Linked DNA regions of Homo sapiens. Changing the gene in region 3 together with the main gene of any one other region gives a genetic interaction. Each region holds a gene or a part of one and is shown on either strand. Other genes may lie near its edges.

Evidence for each region.
Region 1: changes in UBA3 (region 3) and PELO together harm fitness more than expected from each alone (negative genetic interaction), as found in Homo sapiens cells (one large-scale study listed by BioGRID).
Region 2: changes in UBA3 (region 3) and KCTD10 together harm fitness more than expected from each alone (negative genetic interaction), as found in Homo sapiens cells (one large-scale study listed by BioGRID).
Region 4: of UBA3 (region 3) and ATG10, changing one enhances a phenotype caused by changing the other (phenotypic enhancement), as found in Homo sapiens cells (one large-scale study listed by BioGRID).
Region 5: changes in UBA3 (region 3) and PPP2R1A together harm fitness more than expected from each alone (negative genetic interaction), as found in Homo sapiens cells (one large-scale study listed by BioGRID).
Region 6: changes in UBA3 (region 3) and LEO1 together harm fitness more than expected from each alone (negative genetic interaction), as found in Homo sapiens cells (one large-scale study listed by BioGRID).
Region 7: changes in UBA3 (region 3) and EIF3H together harm fitness less than expected from each alone (positive genetic interaction), as found in Homo sapiens cells (one large-scale study listed by BioGRID).

Annotation. Positions count from the first base shown.
Region 1 is NC_000005.10:52,790,916-52,794,415, forward strand, and holds part of PELO (protein pelota homolog), read left to right. Parts: intron 1-3,500. UniProt on the Homo sapiens protein: Component of the Pelota-HBS1L complex, a complex that recognizes stalled ribosomes and triggers the No-Go Decay (NGD) pathway.
Region 2 is NC_000012.12:109,456,801-109,460,300, forward strand, and holds part of KCTD10 (BTB/POZ domain-containing adapter for CUL3-mediated RhoA degradation protein 3), read right to left. Parts: intron 1,282-3,500; coding exon of another isoform or gene 1,279-1,281; coding exon 1,192-1,278; intron 883-1,191; coding exon 830-882; intron 1-829. UniProt on the Homo sapiens protein: Substrate-specific adapter of a BCR (BTB-CUL3-RBX1) E3 ubiquitin-protein ligase complex. The BCR(BACURD3) E3 ubiquitin ligase complex mediates the ubiquitination of target proteins, leading to their degradation by the proteasome.
Region 3 is NC_000003.12:69,059,866-69,063,365, reverse strand, and holds part of UBA3 (NEDD8-activating enzyme E1 catalytic subunit), read left to right. Parts: intron 1-228; coding exon 229-384; intron 385-1,186; coding exon 1,187-1,289; intron 1,290-1,438; coding exon 1,439-1,552; intron 1,553-3,500. UniProt on the Homo sapiens protein: Catalytic subunit of the dimeric UBA3-NAE1 E1 enzyme. E1 activates NEDD8 by first adenylating its C-terminal glycine residue with ATP, thereafter linking this residue to the side chain of the catalytic cysteine, yielding a NEDD8-UBA3 thioester and free AMP.
Region 4 is NC_000005.10:82,248,023-82,251,522, reverse strand, and holds part of ATG10 (ubiquitin-like-conjugating enzyme ATG10), read right to left. Parts: intron 1-3,500. UniProt on the Homo sapiens protein: E2-like enzyme involved in autophagy. Acts as an E2-like enzyme that catalyzes the conjugation of ATG12 to ATG5. ATG12 conjugation to ATG5 is required for autophagy. Likely serves as an ATG5-recognition molecule. Not involved in ATG12 conjugation to ATG3.
Region 5 is NC_000019.10:52,217,552-52,221,051, reverse strand, and holds part of PPP2R1A (serine/threonine-protein phosphatase 2A 65 kDa regulatory subunit A alpha isoform), read right to left. Parts: intron 1,362-3,500; coding exon 1,188-1,361; intron 864-1,187; coding exon 803-863; intron 74-802; coding exon 1-73. UniProt on the Homo sapiens protein: The PR65 subunit of protein phosphatase 2A serves as a scaffolding molecule to coordinate the assembly of the catalytic subunit and a variable regulatory B subunit.
Region 6 is NC_000015.10:51,947,779-51,951,278, forward strand, and holds part of LEO1 (RNA polymerase-associated protein LEO1), read right to left. Parts: intron 2,217-3,500; coding exon 2,030-2,216; intron 1-2,029. UniProt on the Homo sapiens protein: Component of the PAF1 complex (PAF1C) which has multiple functions during transcription by RNA polymerase II and is implicated in regulation of development and maintenance of embryonic stem cell pluripotency.
Region 7 is NC_000008.11:116,724,824-116,728,323, reverse strand, and holds part of EIF3H (eukaryotic translation initiation factor 3 subunit H), read left to right. Parts: intron 1-2,151; coding exon 2,152-2,308; intron 2,309-3,500.

The DNA.
Region 1 (3,500 bases), on a different chromosome or scaffold from region 3:
TGAAGATATGACCTTGTTTTATACATCGAGAAAAGAATTCCACCTTTCCATCCTACCACCCTCTGACATCTAAATAAACTCTCTACAGCCTTCCAAACTGGGTTTACATCAGAACAACAAGCCACCAGCATCCCAATAAACTTCCTATTTGATTTAGACTGTCTTATATTAGCTCCTTACAACGTTTACTAAAATGATTCATCAAAAAGATGTCCTTATGTCCAAAGGATTGTTATTTTATGTATGTCAAAGTCTCAGCATAAACTGATGTCACATATAAAGGATTTAACTGAAGACAGTTTCATAAAGTGACAGTTTAGAGAGGCCTTAAAGGAACAAGAAAAGAGGGTGGAGCATCTAGCGCAAGCAACAGTAGGGAAAAAAGAACCTGAAGCAAGGTGAGAAGAAAAACCATGACCATTCCTAGGCCTGAGGAGGTGGCAGTGTTAGTTTGATTATGAACTCTAGTTATGGGAGGGTGGCCATTAGACTGGAGTTGTGGTCATAAAAAGGAATGCAGCTAGTGACAAAATTGAAGCCCAGCAGAGAAGGAGTAAGGAAAATAAATATACCTCCTTTCCTCCCACCCTCTGATGTCTTGCTCAGCCTTCCCATTGGCCATCCCCAAATGGCAAGATCCAACCTTCCAGAGAACAAAGGGCAAGACAATCAATAACAGAATAGCTAGCACAACTTAACCCCGAAATGTATTATGTGCAAGGCACTGTGCCAAGGGCTTTGCATGTATTATTTCATTTTAATCTAAAAAATTAAGTTTACTAATTGATCACAAGCAGTCACAGATTTCTTTGTTCTTTTTTCACTCCCTCAGCTTGTTGATTAGCCTTGAAAAAAAGAAAAGAAAAAATTAAAACTTTATAACTATTATCAATATTTTAGAGATGAGGAAATCAAAATATAGTATTAAGAAGTTAATTTCATTTGTCCAAAGTTGAAGAACTAATGACAAATCTACTCAATTCATATCTCTGACCTCAAATTAAATGCTCTAAAATAATATGCTATATTGGCTGCCTAAAGATAAGTTCATTCTCTCTTGCTCACTCCTCTAAATGTGAAATCCAAACATAGTTGTCTAAAATACTTGGATAAAGACCTAATTAATGATACAAGTCAATCTTTTATTTCCATGATTTTTAGGTGTACAGCATTAAGTGTAACTCAAGTAAGACTACTATTTCTCGTTATTAAGAATATAAATATAGAATTAGCCCTAATTAAACTATATGTCTCTCTTCCCTAGAAACATTTTGGTTGGCCTAGAAGCAAGGGTCTTCTTTTCACAGGCAAGATTTCCTATTCAAAATGAAATCCAGTGAGGAGATGGGAGATGGCTGAATATGGGGAGGAAGTCAGCCACTTATTCAAAACAAAGAATGACTCCCAATGGCAGACAATGTATTGTCAGGAATTGCTGAAGATGGTGAAAATTGTCTTACTCATTGTGATGTTTGTAAAGGCAGCAATGAATTCACGGGATTTTTGTTTGTTTAGTAAACAGGCAATGAGAGTAACCATGAGACACATATATATGCTATACTAGTTTAACTATTTCTCTTCCCTCCTGTCATAACACTTACCCAGCTATTTTGAAGCATGAGCTCTTGGGCCACAGCTTATCACTGATGTTCTGACTTCAGTAGATAGATGCTCCTCTAACATGTTCCTCCACTTCCAACCCAATAAACTTCCCACTAGATTTAGAACTTGCTGAATTTCCACATCTTAACATATTTTAGTAGAATAAAGTAGCTCATGTTTAAAATATATTTAGAAAAGTTGGGGACTAAAATGCTATTCTTTACCTACACTTCTCTTCTGTTGTGTGAAATACAAAATAGTGTACTCAAATTCATGTTAAGAAACTGAGATGAAAGATATTTTGAAACTGTTGCCACAGTGCTAAAGTCAGAATAGATTGCCTATTCAGAGCAGTCTGTGACTGGAGAATTGTATTCGCCCTCAAAGCAAGTACAGTAGAGTATCAAGAGATGCAAATGACTGCATATATTTCTATCTTCAAGATTATTGAGCTTCTTTCAGCTCCTTTATTATGCCAGCTACTCTAAAGTCTCCTTGGGGACTTTGCATAAGTAGTTACTCCCACTGCTACTGATCTCAATCCCTGAATAAACGTCATTTCCAAGAGATACCCTGAAGTAGATTGGACCCTACCTTAGGACATGTGTATCCCAGCACCTTTGCTTCTATTATATAATGCACCACGGTATTATAATTAACTATCTAATTGCCTGTCTTTCCAGCTTGCTGTATGCTCTGTGAGGGTAGGATCTTTAACCATAACACCTAGAAATAATAGGCACTTTTTAATTGAATGAATCGCAAAAGAATTGACTATTGACAAACTCAGAAAATACTTAAGGGATCAGATTGTCCCTTTATTATATACCTCTGCCTTATTTTATTATACCTCTGCCTGAAATATTTCTGTCTATCCAAATTTATAAATAATGGAATGGAAGACACCATCAGTTGAAAGATGCACCATTATTTTATGTACCACTAAAAAAGACAAGCCACTCCCAATCCAATTATAATTGCTAGATTGTTAGATAGTTCCTAGTTTCAGAGATGTCAAAATTGGGAAAATGTGCGTCTGAAAATTACAATCAATAATATACAGTGTATGGTACTTTTTACCATGGTACTTTTCTATTTGTTTGGACACTTAAAAATTGTGTCATAAGATTTTGAAGAGGCTAGTATGTGAACCCCATCTAGATACAGAGATATAACATTGTTCCTCTCAGTTCTCTTCAAGTGCCAAGTTTATATCTGATTTAGGGGATAATTGCTCCTCTGGCACCAACAGCCTCACCAGATCCCAAAAACAGAGCTCCCTCCAAATGCTCTATCTTTAGAAGAGAGCTTCAGGAGAAAGGTGACAATAAAGTAATCATATAATGTTCCAGTTGCACAGGATTAATGACTCTAGCTTTGGCAAACTCTTAACTTTTTGTCATGTTGGTGGTAAGCTCCAGGGTTGTGTATATAGGAAGAAGACTAATTTTAATCAAAACTTTCCTATGATTTAAAAGGAAGATAAAAAAGTCAACTAAGTTTTAAAAGGAAATTAAAATGCATATGCTGGTTGGTGTTAGGAATTCACTTTATGTGTTAAAAAAAATCAATTTTATCCAAACAGGAGATCCCTATTAACAAGATAAGTAAGAGATCTGAAATGAGAAATCATTGTAATTCAAATATGCAAAGGAGTGGATACACATACTCTTTTTGTATGAATTATATGAGATCTCCTAAAATAAATGCAAATTCTTAAATTTAAATATAGCACCTAAGTCACTTTAAAACATCAATAGTTAAGATGGTTTATATATTTTGTTACAAATCATATATCCTTACTACAAATTAAATGTACTTTCAAAATTATTTTATTAATTAGACTTTTATTTTACCAAATACTAAAGTCTAGAAATACATGGGTACTGGCCAATCCT
Region 2 (3,500 bases), on a different chromosome or scaffold from region 3:
ACCTGCATATATTGCTGGTGGGAATGTAAAATGGTGCAGCCACTTTAGAAAACAGTTTGGCAGGTCCTCGAATGATTAAACATAGAATTACCACATGACCCAGCAATTCTGTTCCCAGAGAAATGAAAACGTAAGTCCACATAGAGACTTTGCATGAATGTTCATAACAGCATTACACACAATAGCCAAAAAGTGCAAACAACCCAAATGTCCATCAACTGATGAATGGGTAAAGAAAATGTGGTCTACACTGTGGAATATTATTCTGCCATAAAAAGGAATGAAGTATTGATTCATGCTACAACATGGATAAACCTTGAAAACCTCTTAGGTAATCTCATTATGCTGAATGAAGGAATCTGGTCACAAAAGGCCATATATTATGCAATTCCATTCACATAAAAATGTCCAGAACAGGCAAATTCATCAAGACAGAAAACAGATTAGTGGTTACCTAGGGCTGTGGGGTTGGGGAAGCAATGGTTGAGGGAAAATGGGGAGTGACTGCTAACGAATAGAGGGTTTCTTTTCAGGCAGTGAAAAAGTTCTAAAATTAGATAGTCGTTATGGCCTCACAACTTGTGAATATATAAAAACCACATATTGTGAATATAATAATAACTGTACACTCTAGAAAGATGACTTTTATGATATGTGTGAATTATAGCTCAGAGTTATACCCCTGTATCCATCTGTCTACTTATCTATCCAGGCAGAGAGGTACAGAGGGGTCATCCTCATCTGAAGGTACGAAGAAGAGCTGGGCCTGGCTGGTGTGAGTGGAGGTTTTCCTAGTAAATGGAGCTGTCTTTCCCGGCTGACGCCTTACCTGGTATATGAGTATTTGTTGTTACTTCTGTTGTAGAGCAACTTCACGGCTGGCTGTGGGTTGTTTTAAAAGAAGAAGAAGAGAGTTACTTGGCAGGCAGATGCAATGAACTACTAGCTTCCCATAGGGCTGGGGCCCTGCCCTGCATCAGAAGAGGCAGACAAGCATAGCTTGCTGGCTGGAGAGGGGGACCACATGACCCAATAGCAGGGGCACAAAAGATGACCTGTAGCTTCCCACTGTGAACCCATTATCAGGCCTCACTCAGGCAATTATACATGTTTTTATTTCAAAAGTTATTCAGAAGAACCTCCATCATTTCTGGTAGCAAAAGAAATTCCACAAGGGTGCCTCCAACATACCTTATTTGAAGTCGCTATAAGTTTTTGTTCTTCCTTGGATGAGGTGATCACAGGGACCTTGCAGAAAGGCTCATAAGTATCTTTGTTCTGCTGGAACAAAACATGCTTTCAGCCTAGGAGGCCTGCCTAGCACTGCATTTTTAAAGTTGACCGGCTGGACAGGCTCTGGCGAGGGGAGATGGGGCAGTCATGGCTGGGAAGAGAGAAGGATTCTCACCACCAGTGAACTAGATGGGGGAAGACAGGGAGTTGAATTTCCCAGTAAGTCTGCTCTTTGGCTATGACCATGATAGGCCAGGATGCTGAGTAAGTACTAACAATGATGACACATTTTCCACAGCCCAGGAAGCCACTCAAAAATAAACCCTTGACGTGGCAGCAGAAACGTGTTTTAATCAAAAGCTCCTAAAACCCCACTACCATGACTGCAGAGGAATTAAAAAAAAAAGCATAAACCCATAAGGGGAAAAAGAATGGGAGAAGTGAGGTCAGCAGACCAGTAAAAAAAGTCAAAAATTTGAGGGTAGAAAGGTCACAGGTGAGCGTTAACCAAGGAGAGGGGGAAAGCTGAAACCAGTGGGCGGAAGCACTGGAAAGATCCCCAAATCCATCTCCGTCCCCATGCAGGCAGAAGAAAGGGCCATCTTCCTGCAGTGGTTTGCACGGTAGAGGACAGGGCTGAGCTGCGATTCTGAAAACGGGGGGACAAGTGAACATCACACTAAGTGATGAGCAACCCCAGCTCCTTCCCCTTCCAGATCCCCAAAGGCAGCCGGCCAGGCCTAGACCCGTCAGGCAGGAGGAGAGTAGAGGATTCCTCTTCAGGAACACCACCTGCTTCCCCCAAAATGGCTTACAGATTCTGACAGTTGGGGGTCCCGCTGAAAAAGTCTGCCTTATCACCCACAATGCAGCCCAGTGGACAACAAGGACCTTCCATGCACAAACAGCTTTCAGAGTCTCTCATTCCTTCAACAGACAGCCAAGCATCATCAGATTACATGTGAAAAGCCTCTTTAACATGAGAACAAAACCAAAACAAAGACAGGAAAAGAGGAGGAGTCAGATAATGAAGGGAGAAGAAAGAAAACAAACAGAATCATCAGACAGTTGAGAGCAGATACGGCCTCCTAGGAAACAAGATGAGCACGCTGTGGAAAGCAGGGCATTCGGACAGCAAGAAAAGGCTCCTGAAGTTAGAAAGACGAAGCAGAAATGAAAATTTTGATAGAAGGGTTGAAAAGGTGAAAAATAAAACTTCTGAGAAAGTAGAACAAAAGGATAAAGCCAGAGACACTAAGAGGAAAGAATTAGGAGGTCAGTCCTGGAGGTCTAACCTTAGACTAACAGAAACGAGACCCAGGGGCATGTCTCCAAGACAAAGATGAAACAGAACCTCTGATGTGTCTGAACACACCACTATGAGACCGCTGAGAACGTGGGGCTGAAGTAGGAACATATATTTAGAAAACCAAGTGAACAAAACAATGAGGCAATCCCTAACTCTGGCAAACTTAAAGTTATAGAAGAAAGAAAATAATCACTGTACACTCTGTGGCTTAACTGTCAGCCGTATTTACACGTCATGACGTAAACTCTGAATTTAACCAAAACTGTGATGAACTGTACTGGGAGAATGGGAGAAGGAAAAGTATGCCTAAGCTTGGTGGGGGTAGAGGTAGGGGCAGTGCGTGAGCTAAATTCTAGTTTCTATAGTCATGCCAGTAGATAATGTCAAAAACTGGGAATTCAATAAAGAGCAGCACAGGCGAATTATGTGGAAACATAAATGTGAACAGAAAAAACTGCTGAAAGAATTCACAGAGGTTACTGCAAGGGTGAAGGAGAGTAGGAGGGGTATGGTGGTGTTTTGATGTTAACCTTGCAGCACTATTTGACTTCTTGAAGGATGCATGTGCATCACTTTCAACAGTGTAGTAATAATAAAAAAGTAAATGCTGCAACATTCAGTTAGGTCTGCAGTGAGTTCAGACTCTCAGAGTAGAGGTGGTGTGCAGCATTATGGGTACTGGTCCGGTGCGGGGCCAGACACAGACATGTGGTGTGGGGGAGGCCCAAACAAGGGCCTCATGCACACAGACCAGATTCCTACGAAAACCCAAAGGGATGCTTCTGATGCTCTGCCACGTTGCAACTTTGTTTGAAATAAAGGGGTGTTGGCCATGTCTAGAAGCATTTTGTTTTTGTGGGATTTTACTGTCACCAGACCTGACTCCAGTGGTCCTGCTCTGTCTAGCTAAGGAGTGAGGGGTGTCTGTCTGTAGAGATTATGCTGAGCTCCCAACAAT
Region 3 (3,500 bases):
ATATATTTTTGAAAAATCAGAGTTTAATTTTTAATTAAGTATATTTACTTCATTGTTTATTGCCAGTCATTGGTTTTCAGGTGAAGACACAAATTGTTATTATAATCCCTTGATTTGATACATTGGTATTCAATAGCACAACCGACTCATAGGATTACTTGAAAGCATACTTCTTCTTTTGAATTCTTATCCCCTTCTCCTTTAAAGCCCTTCAAATTGTTTTCCTAGATATCTCTTCTAAATTATGAAGATGGTGTCTTAGATCCAAGCTCCATTGTCCCTTTGATAGATGGGGGGACAGAAGGTTTTAAAGGAAATGCCCGGGTGATTCTGCCTGGAATGACTGCTTGTATCGAATGCACGCTGGAACTTTATCCACCACAGGTAATCAAAAAAGCACCTGCATTTCTTTTATAGTATCTTGGCATGGAATTAGGGATTAATTATTAAGTCTAGTTAATATTTAGGATTGTTAATTAGAAGTGGCCGTATTTTAAAAATTACACTAAGAAGAAAGATAAAATATGAAATTCTGCTCTATTTGAGGAAAGATATGAACCGAGTACATTGTTTTGATACTATTCTGCTTTCATAATTTATTTGTATTTTTTATTTGGGGAGTAGGTATCAAGTAGAATTACAAAGTTGTATATTGATGTCAAGCTGTAATCTATGTGGTTTTCACCTGTATTTATTTCAGGGAAATAAAGATACCAGGGATAAGAATGATCTTTCCAAGGATGGGGCTTTTTGGTTTACATATCCACTTTAAAGAACACTTGAAATTTTGAATAATAAATGTAAACAATTTTATGAGTATTCACTTGGGATTCACTTAACTCTGAACTTGCTTTTGTTTTGGTTTGCTTTATACTTAAATATTAGGTAAAAATAACAAGGTGTTCATATTTGAGAAAATCTGTTCAGTATTTTTCTTCTCATAGTCTAACAAAGCTTAAATTTTATACCTTGTAAATGTAGGGCAAACCTGTCTTTACAGGCAGTGCAGCCTAAGTGAAGTGACTCAGTTAATCTGTATTATAGTTTGAGAGGCATTTTTAATGGTATACAATATTTTGAGTTGAAACAAATTGTATGAAATTGTTAAGAACTAGATCATAACTGGAAGTTGCATTTTAAAATAATTCGTTTAAAATTCACTGAAAAGGACAAACTGTGGTTTTAGGTTAATTTTCCCATGTGCACCATTGCATCTATGCCCAGGCTACCAGAACACTGTATTGAGTATGTAAGGATGTTGCAGTGGCCTAAGGAGCAGCCTTTTGGAGGTAATAAACCTAATTTAATAATCTAGAATTACATAAAATACATATTTTTTCTATATTATTCCTTTGGATAATTTCATTAAAAACATTGTTTTGTGATTACGTATTCCTGTCTTCTCTCTCTCTCTCTCTCCCTTTTTTTTTTTAAACAGAAGGGGTTCCATTAGATGGAGATGATCCTGAACATATACAATGGATTTTCCAAAAATCCCTAGAGAGAGCATCACAATATAATATTAGGGGTGTTACGTATAGGCTCACTCAAGGTAAGTCAGCAAATTGTCATGAATTATGATGTTGGGATGACTTAGGGCTGGGATGCTTTCAGGAGAATAATCGATAAGTGAGTTTAGACAGTACCATCCACTTGAAGTTCAGTAAAGGTACCATGTAATTCATACTACTTATTAGCTAGGGGGAATTTAATAAAATTATTGAATCTTACTTACTTAGGCTATAAGTCATCCAAGTCAAACTGTCCATTTTATCTTCCACTGAATTCATCATCTCTTAGAGACAGTCTATTTCACATTTGGACAGGACTGTTAGACAAATATTCTATATATTGAACAGAAATTGTCTTCAGGTCAGCTGCGGTGGCTTATACCTGCAATCCTAGCACTTCGGGAGGCCGAGGCAGGCGGATCACCTGAGGTCAGGAGTTCGAGAGCAGTCTGACCAACATGGCAACACCCTGTCTCTACTAAAAATACAAAATTAGCTGGGTGTGGTGGCACATGCCTGTAATCCCAGCTACTCAGGAAGCTGAGGCAGGAGAATCACTTGAACCCAGGAGGCTGAGGTTGCAGTGAGCCTGAGATTGCGCCACTGCTTTCCAGCCTGGGCAACAAGAGCAAAACTTCGTCTCAAAATAGAAATCGTCTTCAGTTTGGTCTGACTGTTGTCCCAGTACTGTATACAGTCTAATTCCCTTTTAAGTAATAGCTTTTAACATATTGAGGACAGTGATCACATCCTTTGCAAATTTTTATCAGTGCCATAAACCTCCCTAGTTAGTTCCTTTAACCCTGTATTAGTTCATTTTGCTTTGCTATAAAGGAATATCTGAAACTGGGTAATTTATTCAGGAAAGAGGTTTATTTGGCTCATGGTTCTGCAGGCTGTGTGAGCATGGCAAAAGCATCTGCTTGGCTTCTGGTGAGACCTCAGGAAGCTTTTACTCGTGAAAGCTAAGGGGGATGGCAAGGCATGTCATATGACGAGAGGGAGCAAGAGAGAGAGGAGGGAATACCAGGCTTCTTTTAATAACCAGCTCTTGCGTGAACTTAATATCACAGGGAGGGCACCAAGCCATGCATGTGGGATCTGCCCTAACGGTCCAAACACCTCCCACTAGGCCTCACCTCCAACACTGGGGATCACATTTCAGTATGAGATTTGGAGGGGACAGATATCCAAACTATATCCAACCCTTTGATATGTTGTACAGCTTCAGGTTCTCATGTTGTTTTTCTGTAACCATATTCCAGCTATCCATATTGGTTAACTGGAATATAGTTAGAGAAAACAACTTTTCCTAATTGTTCAGGCCAACATGCAGCATTATGGGACTGGTCTTAACTTTAGATAATAGACTTCTGATAACTGATGCAGTCTTAAAGGAGAGCAGGTATTTATGTTGTTGTTTTTTTGTTTACATTGATGCTATACTTTGGATTCTTTGATGTTACTAGCCACTGAAAGCTGGATGTTTTGTCCACATATGCAATTGCTAAGCCACATCTGCCTATTATAAACTTGGCAGTTTGGGGAGTGTCTTTTTTTTTTTGTTTTTCTTAATATCCAAGTATAGGTCCTTACAAATGTATTCTTAAAATTCAACCTGTTTTTCTCTCTTTATATGTATTCTGCCAACTTACCTGGTGTTTCTAGCTTCATTTCACCTGTTTTGATAATTATATCCTTTATTTCTTTTTCAAATAATTGATGAAAATTTTTAATAAGACTGAACTCTCTGAGAACAGACATCTGAATCATACTTCTGGCCAGGCCCTTTTAGGTTTATCTCATTCTGTTCATCAGACCTTCTTGGTACTTTGTATTTCTTTATCTTGTTCACAAGGATGTCATGAAAAACCTTTCCAGATCCTCTACTGAAGCCTAGGTATGCTATCTTTTGCATTTTCCTGAGTTGCTAAGTTAGTCATAGTAGCCAAATGAGGCTACTCCAACATGATTTGTCTAGTAACCAGT
Region 4 (3,500 bases), on a different chromosome or scaffold from region 3:
ATGTGGGAATGCAGGTTCAGCATGCCAGACCTCCCTATTTGTGAAACTAACCTAGAAAAGCTGAAGTTTATGTTAAACCTCCTACATTTAAGTGTTGGCATAATTTATTTTTAAACATGGAGTGGGACAAGTAAAACAGGCTTGTAGGCTGGATTTAGACTAGGGGATGCCTAGTTTCTTCTCTTGGCTTCTTCTCTCAGCCAACCCAAGGGGAAGCTGAACTCAGAGCTGTTGATGGGATGAATTATGTGGCTGTCCTTGCTGCCTCTACCCCTCAGCTCCAAACATTCATGTCTGTATGCTTATGCACATATCCACTCACAAGAACTGGAAGGGACAATTCCTCTTGTATTGGTGACACTGGGTATGGAGATTTGGGGTGGTGGTGGTGAGGGATGAGTTATCCACTAGTGATAGGTTATTGCATGTATCTGGCATTTTTAGCACCACCTGGCATTTGTTTCTCCCTGAGTGCCATCTCCAGGTGACTCTGACCAGTCGCCTGATTCTTCCAGCAAGGCATCAGCTTCCTCTCTACAGCTCTCTTCCCAACCTTCATTCCCATCCCTAACTGGGCCCTGGGCTCAAAGCCCTGATGTGTTGGGCCTATGCCAAGTCCTCCTGTCCAACTTGAATCTGGTTTCCCTTACCTGCCTTAAACTAATATTTAGCAATTCAACATATATTAATCAATCATCTTTTTTATGTGTCTGCCAGAATACTTCTAGCTATAGTTATAGAGACCACTGCATCTCTTAGATAAACAATGTTCCTGATCCCATGGAACTTAGATTTCAGTGCAGGAGACAGCCAATAAACACACAGAACGAATAAATAAGATAATCCAGATAATTATAAGCCCTACAAAGGAAACACAACAGGGTAACATGATTCTGGAGGGATTGTGGTGACATTAGACTTGGAAAGGGAAGGCCTGAAGGAAGAGGTAATACAATGGACTGAATGTGTGTATCCCTCTTAGGGTTACACCCTAAGAGGTGTAACTCTCACTCTTTTCCTATCATGTGGGGATACAGTGAGAAGATGGCATCTATGAAATAGGAAACGGGTCCTCACCAGACACTGGATCTTCCAGTGCCCTCATCCTGGATCCTGTAGCCTTCAGAACTGGGAGAAATAAGTGTTGGTTCTTGAGCCACCCAGTCTATGGTATTTTTGTTATGACAGCCTAAATGGACTAAAATAAGGTGAAACTTAATCAAAGATCAGAACGACAAGGAAAAAAACAACCATGCAGAGATTTGGGAACAGAATGTGGGGGCAGATGACCCTATGGGGGAAATGAGCATAGAAAATATGCAGGAAAAATGCAAAAAAATTTAGAATTATCCTGGACTAAAACAATGACTGTTTAGAAAGCTGGGATTTAAAAAAGATAAATGTAGTCTAAATTCTTTTGGGATGACTTACATAGTTGCCAATGGAAGGAATAAAGAGGTATAATCCAATCTTATTGATGTAAAGTACATGTTGACTTTAATGAAATGAAACCTACAGTTACAAATTTCCACTAGACGGAAACACTCCTAATAGGGAGGATCAGTTCAATCACGCAGCCTCCACTCTCTCCAAGACTCACTTTCCCTTTGGCATCTCTTTCTTATCTAAGAGGTGGATAGGCACTTACAGTTCAGGGGACCATTTTCTTAGAGGAGTCTTAGGACCATGGCACACTGCAGCTCTGCTCATTTGATGCTGCTTTGTAAAGACATGGACTTTACTTCTATAAGTCATCTTTTTTTCATTCCACATAGCAAGTGGGTAAGCACATGCATGAGCTCTATGGTTAAGACTGTTTGAGATCAAGTCCTGCTCTACCACTTGGTAGCTGTGAGCTATTGGGAAAGTCACTTAACCATTTTACGTCTCTGTTTCCTCATCTGGTAACTGTGGCTAATGATAGTATCTGTCTCAGAGATTGACTGTGACCCTTCAATGAGATAATACCACAGAAGTACATAGAACAGTACCTGACACATAGCAGACACTTAGTTGGCTATTAGTATTTAACCCATTAATATCTAAACAGAAAAGAATAACAGCCAGACATTCAGAAAGTAGTCTTATGGTACCCTATAATAAAGCCAAATTTCAATCTAAAAATAGGACGTTCCTGTAAATTAAGTAGCATATTAAAAGCATCACTGACCAGTATCTAAGTGTTTAGGAATATTTGACAACTGTTTATAAGTGAAAGGAAGAAAGGTCTGAATTAGTAAAAGGTCTAGGTCTATATGGCAACTAGAACTATCACTATATTTGTATTCAGGTTTAAAACCAAATTAATGAAAAATAATTTAAATGAATTTAAATTAAAATAAAAGTTTAGGTACTTCAAAAACACTTCAGTAATCTACAACATTTTAATATTCATTTTTCCTCAAAGAACATAAAACAGTCATATTAGCATTTAAGGTTATGTTCTAATAGAATAAAATGCATGGCAATGTCATTTAAAACACTTTTTAAAATAATTGAGACTTTCATGCCTTTGAAGAGCTTTTAGAATAGCTTAAGCATTTCTTTAATGCAGGTTTGGCCATCTTTAAAAAATTCTTTATCCTTTACTATACTGAGACCTTATATTTATATAATTAAATAGAATATATTAAAATGAATGATGGTCTTTAAAAATTAAAAGTTTAAATTTATTAATAAATTGGATTTTAAAATAAAAATTATATTGTTTTGGCAAAATGCTTTTGGTTCAAAAGAATCAAGCCTATAATATGCTGATCAGCTTAAAATAGGAATTATAAGATATGTAATCTTTTAGAAGAATTTTATAAATTAATAACAACAGAAGTGGACTTCCAGCTGTGATAGAATAAAGAGGTCAGCAAATCCTCTCCCCAGAAATTAAATATAAAAATGAACAAAATTGTCAAAAACTAACCATTTTTGGGTCCTGGAAATCAACCAAGGGCAAATATAAAATCTGAGACGTGTTTAGTTCATGATAATCTGCTAAACTTCAAGTTAGAAACAGAGGGAATCTGAAGCCTTCTTGCCTGGAAGTACTTCCATATCCCCTCCTCCTCTTCCCCAATGTCCCCAGACACTCCATCAACAGAAGTTTTACCAGAGCAATCTGGCCATAAGAGCCAATAACTGTGTAGCCAGAGGGGCTGGCCTGATTTCCAACAGATAGCTAAAACTATTGCTCAGCAGCACTGTCAATAAAAATAGCAAAATAGGTACTAAATGAAAAGAAAAAAGCTGCAGCTCTGCTAGCCAGAGGTTGCAGTCCCAGTTGAGGCAAGCAGCAAACTACCAGTAATTTAATGGGGACATTCTGGAAATAAGACAGCCACAGAAGGGGTAGATAAGTTCTCCAGGCATCACTAGCTGATGGGAAGGGGATGTTCAGTGGAGTCACAAGAAGGCCTGATAGGAAGTAAGAGCTAAGGCCAATATGAATACTACTTGAGTTTTTAGCGTGTTCCCAATCCACGTACACATCCATTGGCAAAAGAAAA
Region 5 (3,500 bases), on a different chromosome or scaffold from region 3:
TGGGCCCACTCCTTCCCAAACTTTTCCACTAGCTTCTTCAGGTTGCTGGTGGCTGCCTCGCGGATGGCATATACTGCAGAAGGGTGAGGGTGAGAGAGACAGGGATTTGGAGGTGAAGAACTGATGTGGGCAAAATGTAGGTCACACTCACCATGGCTTACAAAGCAGCCCCTAGGTGCCAGGCTGCATGTGAGCCAAAGAGAGAAAAAAGGACTTACTATGTGCTATATCTAGTAACTGTTTTTTTTTATACAGTATCTTTTCAACCACTCCAAGAGGTAGGTTCCACTACTGGCTTCATTTTACAGATGGGCAAACTAAGGCTCTAAGAAGTGATTTGCCTAAATTATGTGGCACTTATTACTTCAAACAGGGCTTCACAGAGATAAATATTACCTTTTATTTTTTACCTCTCTTAGTGTAAACAATGAGCCATTCTCATAATGGCCCCAAGGCACCAGAATAAGAAGTTTCAAAGAATGAGTGTGGGGCTCATTCAAAGACAGCAGGTGACTTGTTTTAGATCTGACAGCCCCAAGGGCAGGATTCAAAACCCTGGTCTGGCTGCTCAGTGGCCCTCTGGCTCTCCACTATACCAGGCAACCCCTGGGTGATCTGTTTCGTCCTCCTCCCACTCAACACTTCTCTAGGACTCTAACAAGCATGCGAGCTGGTCCATACGAGCATCCAGCGGCGTGGGGAGTGACTCTAGCCTCCTCCACTGCCCGCCACAGCCCCAGCCAATCCATCCTGCCTTTCTGGAGCTCCCATCTCCTCTTGCTGCTCCTGTGAAGGTACTCACCATGATCCACAAGCCAGGCCATGCACAAGGAGTTAAGTTTCTCATCAAAGAACTCCACTCCCTACAGGAGAAACCAAGGGTTCCAAGGTAAGCGTTCCAGGAGAGCAAACAGGGGGAGCTGCTAGCCACATCCCATGGAACCTACACCCACCCTAGAAAGACCGGACACTTCTCAACTTTGTCTGAGGTGCTCCTTTCCCTCCTCTCTCTTATTGAATCCAATGCATCTTTTAAGGCCCTATTTCCTGGGTCCCTTCCTTCGACTCCCCAGGCAGTTGTCACAGCCTCCACTAAGCCTTCAAAGCCCCGTTTCCCCATCACAGCCCTGGACATACTGCACCTCCCCTGAGGCAGCACTGCCTGGCCCCCAGGCCTCCTCACTCACCAGCTGTCCAGCCAGGAGGGGCATGTACTCAATGATGGCCAGCCGCACCCGCCACTTGGCGTCCTCAGCCAGCTCCACAATGGCAGGGAGCAGGGACTGGGACAGCTGCCGGATGCCAATCACCTCGTTCACACAGTCCAGGTTAGAGATGATGTTCAGCCGTACCTCAGGGCACTGAGGAGAGGAAAGAAGGATTCTGAGAGAATGCAATGCACACAGCAACCCAGGACAGGATGGAAAGAGCTCAGCTGCATCAACTTTTATGGACATCTCCCGAGGGACTACTCCTGTCCAAGCCCAGCTCCCCGTTCTGGGAACACATTAACGGCACACAAAAAGCAAGCAGCATGGATCACTAACTTAAGCAGATTTTTAAACCTTACAATAGTATCACAAGAAATGTTTATCCATTTTGAAAAGACTTTAAGAATCACAGTAGGAAAATACAGCACCCTGGAAAAAACAGGCAGACATGATTCTTCTAATCCTAGCTCCGCTGCTTGCTAACAAGGGTTCCTTTCTGGGTATCAATCCACAACATGGGAGAAGGGAAGGAAGAAAACTATTTCCTTATTAAAACTATTTTAGTCTAAAAAAATAAATAAATAAAGGAGCACTGAAATGAATCAATAACCAAGTGAACAAGCCTGGCAGGCTTGGGCTGTTGAAACCCTGCACATTCCGAGGATAGGACTGGCCCTTGCCCAGCTCCAGCCCTTGCTGTGTGAGCCTCAAGCTGCTGAACATGTGCATGAGAAGAGAAGGCTCAGAGACTATACCTCACCCATTTAAAAAGACTTATTTTTGGTGCACCAGTAAAAAGGTAGCCTTTTTCATTTAGACAAGTTTATAAATTCTGGTGAGAGTCAAAATGTAAAATATAAAGTTTATAAATCTAAAATGGAAATCTCAAATATAAGTCAGATGAATTCCTCACACCAAGAAAACCATGCTGGTTCTTTTCTTCTAAGAGAAGCTGCCCTGAGACAGGCTGGCTGCCAGCACACGATTACCATATAGCGCTTGCTGAAGGTGAAACTGGAGCAAAAAATGCTCCAGTCCTAGCGCACTTGCAGCACGTATGGGCTTGCCTTCAAACTGGGCTGAGCCTGGATCCTTCCCTCATGCCAGAGGCAAAATGATCCCCAAAACGCTGGAGAGGTGTGAAATGACATAGCAGACAACTTGAGGGGCTCTCACCTGCCAAATTATGCCCATTAAAGCATCAAAAACAAATATAAATTGTATTAATATCTATAAAATTATAAAAACTATGTGCATGTGAAGCATAACTCAGATAAATTACTTAAGTCATAAAATTTGTCATGAACACTAATGAAGATTCAGACTTTTAGCAACTGACGTAATTAACTGATTAAAACCAGTACAGTTAATCACCCACTAATAGGGAAAAACAAAAAGAACAAAAAAATATTAAAAATAGCGCACTCTTTTCAATGTATTAAAAAATTCACTGTAATTCTGGGGCTAAGAGATTACTCCACTGTAACAGAATTGAATAACGTAACTTTTAGGGGCATGGAGGACTGAAATGTGATGCAGTACTTTCTGTTACAGTATTTCCTCCAACTTTCTAGCAGACTGTGTGGGCGCCTGTGTATAAAAAAGAAAGAAGGGGATGGGGAAGAAAGACTGAGGCTTTTGGGAAGCCTCACACACTTCCCATCTTTTGGGAAAGATGTCACACACCAGCACACAATTGCACCATCTGCCCAGTTTTTCACCACCAAGGCAAAAACCACCACGTGGTCCCTTCTGCCTCCTGAACAATCTTGAATCCTTCCGTATCAATGCAGCCTCATCTCTACATACCACTTAGTCTAGCCTCAGCCTTCCAGACTCCCACAGCCTCCGGTTTGGTCTGCCTACACTGCTGCTGGCCACCTCACTTCAATCCTTCCTTCACATAAGCCTCAGGGTGCCTTCTAACACCAACTCTATTCTGGCTCTTCCGCTTGCCCACAGTCAAGTCCAAACTCCTTCCCCAGTGGTCACCCTGATGATCTCTCCAGTCATCACCCAGCACCGCCTCTCATCCTTTGTAATACAGGCAACCTGAACTGCTGGGTGTGGTCACGTGACCCTCCTGGCCAATGGGTGTATGGGGTGCAAGCACATGTGAGGAATCTCGTCCTAGACTGTTATGAGAGAGAGAAAAAAAATCCACCACCGAATTTAAGCCAGAATGTATTCTGGGGTCTATATTAGAGCACCTTAGCCTAAACCCTAAAAAACATGAACTCATCCTTAACAGCACCTGTAACACCTTAATGGCATCATGGGACTGCCTGT
Region 6 (3,500 bases), on a different chromosome or scaffold from region 3:
AAATATCTTTAGTTCCCTCTGTATATTTCCTCCCAGGGGAACCAAATAATTTTAAAGTTTTTGATTTAAAGATAAGTATAAATTTTAGATATGCGGAAATGAAGCAGACTTACCCTCTCAAAATACAAAAACCTGACCACTTTTAAAGATGAAAAAGGTTTGTGTGCAAGGTGTCTAAAGAGGCAAGATACCCTACTCTTACGAAGTCAACTATTAAAGCCTGAGACATTCTTCCACCAGTAACAGTTAATTCCAAAATGAGTTTGAAGGTAAAGCAAGAAAGTGGTTTCCTGGTCCTGTAAAGACCGTTTGTTGCCAGGCAGACCTTTCAAAGAGAGATGTAGAGGGGCGCCCATCTGCTCCACTGCCCAAGCCCAGGTGAACCTCTGGGTGGAATAAGAGCCGAGGACTTTAGACCAAGCCCCTCCCGTCAAAACCCAAAGCCTTCCCTTTGTCCCCACACCTTGCCTATCTGATTACTGTATGGAACTGAGCACTACTAGACTCATGTGCTAGATTTTTAATCTCTGGTGACCTGAATGTTACACACCTCTCTCTCTTAAAGCATCCTTGGATTTTTAAAATTTTTATTTAATTTTTGTGTGGTTTATTTCCACACAATTGAATCTTTTTCTATGGGAAATCAGCATTGACAAAAAAGAAAGGGTCTCTGTACTGTGGTCCCCAAATAAATAATAGGTAGGTAATATGTAACAGGTCACCAGACCAAATGCAGTCACTATAAGAAAAGGAGAAATGAGTTTCATGGGACAGTCAGAGAAAAATAAATTTGGGTGTTTTAAAAATTTACTTGTTATATGCCAGGCTCTGGGCTAAGTACTTTAAATGTATTATATTATGTAATCTTCAAAACAACCTTATGTTCTAACTACCATTATTAATAGGTTGTTTTTGTCACAATGAGGTAACAGAAGTTAAGGGAAACTATGTAACTCTTCAAAAGTTATACAACTAAAAAGTGGCAGGACTCAGATGAGAGCGGGCAGGGTCAGAAGGCCAGCCAGGTCTTCTTAGTTCGCTTTTCACCATGTCGTCTTGCTACTGGCTTGGGGGAACCCCTGGGTAAGAACCAGGTGGATGCAGAGTCACGGCTGGGACAGATGTCTCGGAAGTCAGATGACTTTGGTTTAAGAACTGACCAGTTAGCAACTACGTGCCTTTGGGCAAATTAGTCAACCTCTCAAAGTCTCAGTTTCCTCAATAAAAACAAGGAAATAAGAGCAACTAGATCATAATGTTGTTATGAGGATCAAACAGGATGCATGTCAAGTGTTGAGCATTTGCCTGAAATTCAGTATGTGTGGAAAAAACGTTAACCATCAGAAATCAGTGATACTTGTGAAAGGAGGAAATATGCAAAAGTAAATCTAAGAGAAATGTAGAAGAAGAATGAAAGAAAATATCACATAATTTCTGAATAGTTTAATTTCTTGATTCCCAATTAGGTAATAAAAAAGGTTGACAAAAGTTCCAGTATAACTGGCAAATTCTCAAGTCAGAAAGCAAAAGCTCAAGGGATAAAACCCAAAGTAGGAACAACAGCAGTTCCTACCTTTCAAGCTCACCTGAATGAACTAGGTCACTCATGACAACTCGTTCTTTAAAAATAAAATGTCCGGGCTAGGCACAGTGGCTCATGCCTGTAATCCCAGTACTTTGGGAGGCCAAGGCGGGCAGATCACTTGAGGTCAGGAGTTTGAGACCAGCCTGGCCAACATGGTGAAACCCCGTCTCTACTAAAAATACAAAAATTAGCCAGGTGTGGTGGCGCACACCTGTAATCCCAGCTACTCGGGAGGCTGAGGCAGGAGAATCACTTGAACCCAGGAGGCAGAGGTTGCAGTGAGCCGAGATCACACCACTGCACTCCAGCCTGGGTGACAGAGCGAGACTCCGTCTCAAAAAAAAAAAAAAAAAGTCCAGTGACTTGGCAGCCGGATTACATCTAATGCCAAGATGAAGTCCAGAATCCCGAAATGATGAAATGTAATTTCCATACACGACTCACCTCGAATGCCCCCTTTATATCGGTTTTTAATGGCAGCCAAGCTGATGGACTCCTCGCCTTCCTCCTCCTCATCGTATCGATCAGGTTCCAGGTAACTGGCGCTCAGCCCCCGCTGGTGCTGTTTCTCTCTCATTCGGCGCTGCTGAGATTCCCTACGTATGGAAGCCCTCAAACGTTCTTCTTCTTTCTGTAAAGAAGCAAATAACCTCTTTAACCTAAAAAGGAGCTACTTTTGTGCCCACTTGAACCCACTTTTATTACAAATAGCATGTAATGTCTGGTCCAGATAACAGCTGTGCCGTGTGTGTTCCCCATCCCACCTCTGTGGCTCCACAGGGACCCTCTGGTTTGGTTTGCAGGAGCAAAGGCAACACAAGGGTAAAGCGGCAGAAGGGAGCCCTGACACTAACCGGCCCAACTGGCATTGGCACAGGTGTGTCCTCGGGAGCTGTGCTGGTGTTCTGTGCTGCCACTTAACCCAGAGAGAAGCAACCCGCCTGAGAAACCCCATTCATGCCCAGCAGAAACCTAAATTGACTCCCTGGAGCAGCAGTGGCTGTTCCTGTTCATCCCTGAACCACAGACAACTGATCTGCCCCAGCTCTACCAAACTCCCATAGTTCCCAGATATTCTGGTCCCAGCCCCTCAGCCCCTCAACCCAGAGAGCTCCTCACGGCTCCTGATGACAGGTTGGGGAGCGTCCTAGAGCCACAAGGTAGACCTTTCATTTCCTTTGCACTGCCTGGCATTCTGCACCTTGATGTTAAACCAGGTTGGGGGTAGGGGTGGTGTTGGAGTAGGTTTCAGGGATATTCTGGGATTTCTTTGAAGGTCTTCCTCATCCCGTTGCTCTGTATTATCATATACAACTCCAATTATATTGCTAGAAATTCTATGGAACAGATTGTTTTAATAGTATGTGGCTGTACGGAGGTTAGAGTAAAAATCACTGTCAGTAGTACAGGGACTAAGAACAAACCAGCTGACTCCTAGTCTACATTTTCACAGGAGCTGGGGACATGGAGGAGGGTGTGGGGAGATGCTCAAAGTGGTTCAAGAGCTTCTCCAATAATGCTGAGACTGGAATCTGCAGGTTCCTCCAGTTCCCTTAGTCTGTACAGAAAAGGTGGGGAAATGGAACAAGCCCAGCTCCAAAGCAAATGCCGCTATATACCACTAGGTTAGGTACTGCTATTAGATCTGGTTTAATCTGTCTCCATGAACAAATACAGGATGGAGGAAAAAGCAAGGGCTCAGAGCCAAACCTTCAGCAGAGCCTGACCATAAGATTTGTAAGAAAGGCCCTGAGGTAACTGGACTGTCTTAGCCTCACCATGCCCTGCTTCACTAAACAACGTAATCACAAGAGGCAGGGTGGGCAAAGGCCAAAATCTAGTAGGGATTAGAGAAGATGGAGAGGAGAAATGATGAGCCTGTACTACTGCATATGGCTTCTCAAATCAAGTGCTG
Region 7 (3,500 bases), on a different chromosome or scaffold from region 3:
CTGCCTCAGTTTTCTTATCTATAAAATGAGTATTAACAGTACCTTTCTCCTAAGGTGGTTGTGAGAATTACATGATAGGGTAATACATGTGAAATAATTAGATTATTGCCTGTCATACAATGTTTAGTAAATGTAATGTGCTGTTATTAACTGGTCATTAGTTTCTTTTTTTCTTTCATAATTGGTTTATTGGTCGTGTTGATGATCAGTACACAGACATTTCAATTTGTACACAATTCTTAACATATATACTGAAAATCTAAAAAGCCATGTGTTGTAATTTTTAAAAAGTTATTTCAGTGACTTTCCAGCTTAAAATTGGGAAGCAAATTTTCCATAAGAGGCTATCAAGTACCAGTATCTTCACATGTTAGTAAGCTGTTACATAGATCTCACCAATTCACAGTATAATACCATATAGACTACATACTCAAATTTTCAATCTTCCACAGCACATTAACAAAGTTCATTAGAAAAGCAGGACTACCACGACCAAAGATGTTACAGTGCACAGAATTATGACAGGGAGAGCCATGATCAAAGAGTGTTTTTCTTTAGGAAACAATTCTACTAAAAAATAATGTGGGAATGAAAGTAATTTAAAATGTTCAAGACATTAAATGCAGGACTGCAACTCCATATTGCCATTTAGTATGCTTTGTATTACAGGATATAAAAACTAACCCCCCAACTATGGAATGTTAAGCTGACACTCAGGACAGTCAAACCCTCCCATAATTCAGTATCTCACACAAACCTGTGTTTACAAAATAGTTGGTAACAGTATTCCTCTGGGTTGTACAAGATGGGAAATAGGGACCACTGATAAGATACAGTGTGTTATGATATCAGTCAAACTTGGCTTCTTTATCTCTGGCGTCATCAGAGGCTGGACTCTTCTCAGTTTTAGTTTCTTCGTTTTGTGCAGGTAAATTTCTTTAGTTTCCTGGTTAGCCACTTTGGCCTGTTTTCCCTTTGCTCCCTTTTTCCCTTTGTTTGCACTTTTTTGTCTGAAGATTTATCCTTTCCTGCTGCCTTTTTTTAGCTTCGTTTCCACTTTGGCGGGAGCAGGTTTAGCTGACAACCGCATTGATTCTCTCTTAGGCTGTTTCTTCACCATCCGTGTGGCTGAGCTGACCTGTGGGCTCAGGCTGCACACAGAAGTAGCTGCTCACCCTGTGTGTGCCTGGCCCACCCATTACTTCGTTTCTAACAATAATATATTTGTTTTAAATGAAACACTAATAACGTACAAATAAATTGTCATTTTCTTGTTAGAATTATTTTTCCTCTGAGAACTTTACATTACAATTTTGAATGTGTTGCCTTTTGGGTCTTCAGGCCATGGGCTCATATTAAATATTAATGCTATTATTATTAATATGTGCCAGGCACTATAAAACACTTTACATATATTAACGCCATGTTGTAGGAATTATTAATGATTATGATTATTGCAGACTTTAATTTCTTGTCCACCTGTGCACGGTGTTACCTCTTATCTTTATGGGAATATTAAAGGAGAGAGTAGTAGAAGACCTGGTTATTCCATTAGAGGTTGCTTAGTGAATCCTTCTGGTTGAGGAAAACTAGATCATGCTGGAGACTATACCAACCAGATTGTTGTTGGATATGTGTGGGTACGTGTTCCCGTTGTTGCATCCTCTGACTATGGAGATGATCTGTTGAGAAAGGCAAAATGAGAATTTATCAGAAGGCTCTGCTTTCAGGTGTCCCGATAATTGAGACCTTTATCTCTGTGTCTTATTGATAGTTTTGTCATTTATGTGTCTATTAACAGGATCACTTTCTCAATAATAGCCTCAGGTTGAGGGGGTATTCTTTGATTTGGCTGAAGGAACTCCTGGATGCCAGACCATGGGGAAGCTTTGATTTAAGAGCATAACTGCTGTAGATGGACGTTTTTGACATGTAATCAAACTCCTGGAGTTTCAGATCTGCGTTTAGATTATGTGAGCTTTATTATTTATGTAAGGGTAAAGGAAAGGATTTGTAAGACATTTATTTATTCCTCTTATTTAATTTGTGGTTTTGCAAACCTAGTACAGTTTCTTTTGTTTTTTCTTAGAAATAAAGGAAATAATAAACTAGGATGGTTGTTAAGCTCCCTTCTGTGTGTGTATGTTTTAGGTGGTATTAAAGATAATCAAACATTATCAAGAAGAAGGACAAGGAACTGAAGTTGTTCAAGGAGTGCTTTTGGGTCTGGTTGTAGAAGATCGGCTTGAAATTACCAACTGCTTTCCTTTCCCTCAGCACACAGAGGATGATGCTGACTTTGATGAAGGTAAGGGTGTTCATCACAAGTGTGTCTTTGCAGTGCATACAAATGGATATTGACACAGGTCTCACCATAACTTTTGATAATGTGTGAATTGGGAATCTGTCAGGCTAGCCTACTTCACTTGATGTCTGATACTTTGGGAAAATTATATAAATTCTGGGAAATGAGGGTTTATACTATAGACATCATTAGTTTGGCCTTTACTTATTTGGAATTTGTGATTCTGATTTGTCATAGATTGGATAGGAACTGTGCTGATGTTGACTTTGTCAACATGAAATCAGCTTGCTAAATAAAGTTTTGAGGGACAAAGATCATCCTTATGTGTCTGTTATCCATTCCCTTCTATCCTCTTTTGAATAAGTCAGTGTTTAGAAAGAGATGGAGTTCAATTTTCTGCTTCAGAAAGAAGATACTCCTCAAGCATTTCAGAAATTTTATTTTTGTACTATAGGTGTAGTTCCTTTGTTAGCAAAGGCTGAGAGTAGTTAAAAGCTCACATCAAAGGCTAAAATCAGCATCTAGAAGATTTTTTAAAAATCAAGTTGAAAATAACTTCTCACTTGTTTGAAATCCCTGGTTTCATTTTCTGTGTAACTTTTTATTGTAAAAAGCACATAAAAATTTTAAGTATACATTACAGTAGTGTTAAGTGTATGCATATTGTGCAGTAGGTTTCTAGAACTATTTCATCTTGCAAAGCTCAAACTCTGTATCCATCGAACAATCCCTTTTTCCACCTCTTTCATCCCCGCAACCACCATTCTACTTTGTGTTTCCAAGAGTCTGACTACAGATACCTCATGTTAGTGGAATCATGTGGCATTTATTATTTTGTGAGTGACTTATGTTATTTAGCATAATGTCCTAAAAGTTCATCCATGTTGTAGCAATGACAGGATTTTCTTCTTTTTTCTTAAGGCTGAATAATAATTCATCATCTGTATATACCACATTTTCCTTATCCAGCCATCTGGCGATGGAAGTTTAGGTTGCTCCCACCTGTTGGCTATTGTGAATAATGCTGCAGTGAACATGGGTGTGCAAATATCTCTTCAAAATCCTGTTTCCATTTTCTTTTGGATATGTACCCAGAAGTGGTATTACATGGTAATTCTATTTTTAATTTTTTGAGGAACTTCTGTATGTTTTTTTTAATAGCAGCTGCACCATTTTACATTTCCAACCTTGCACA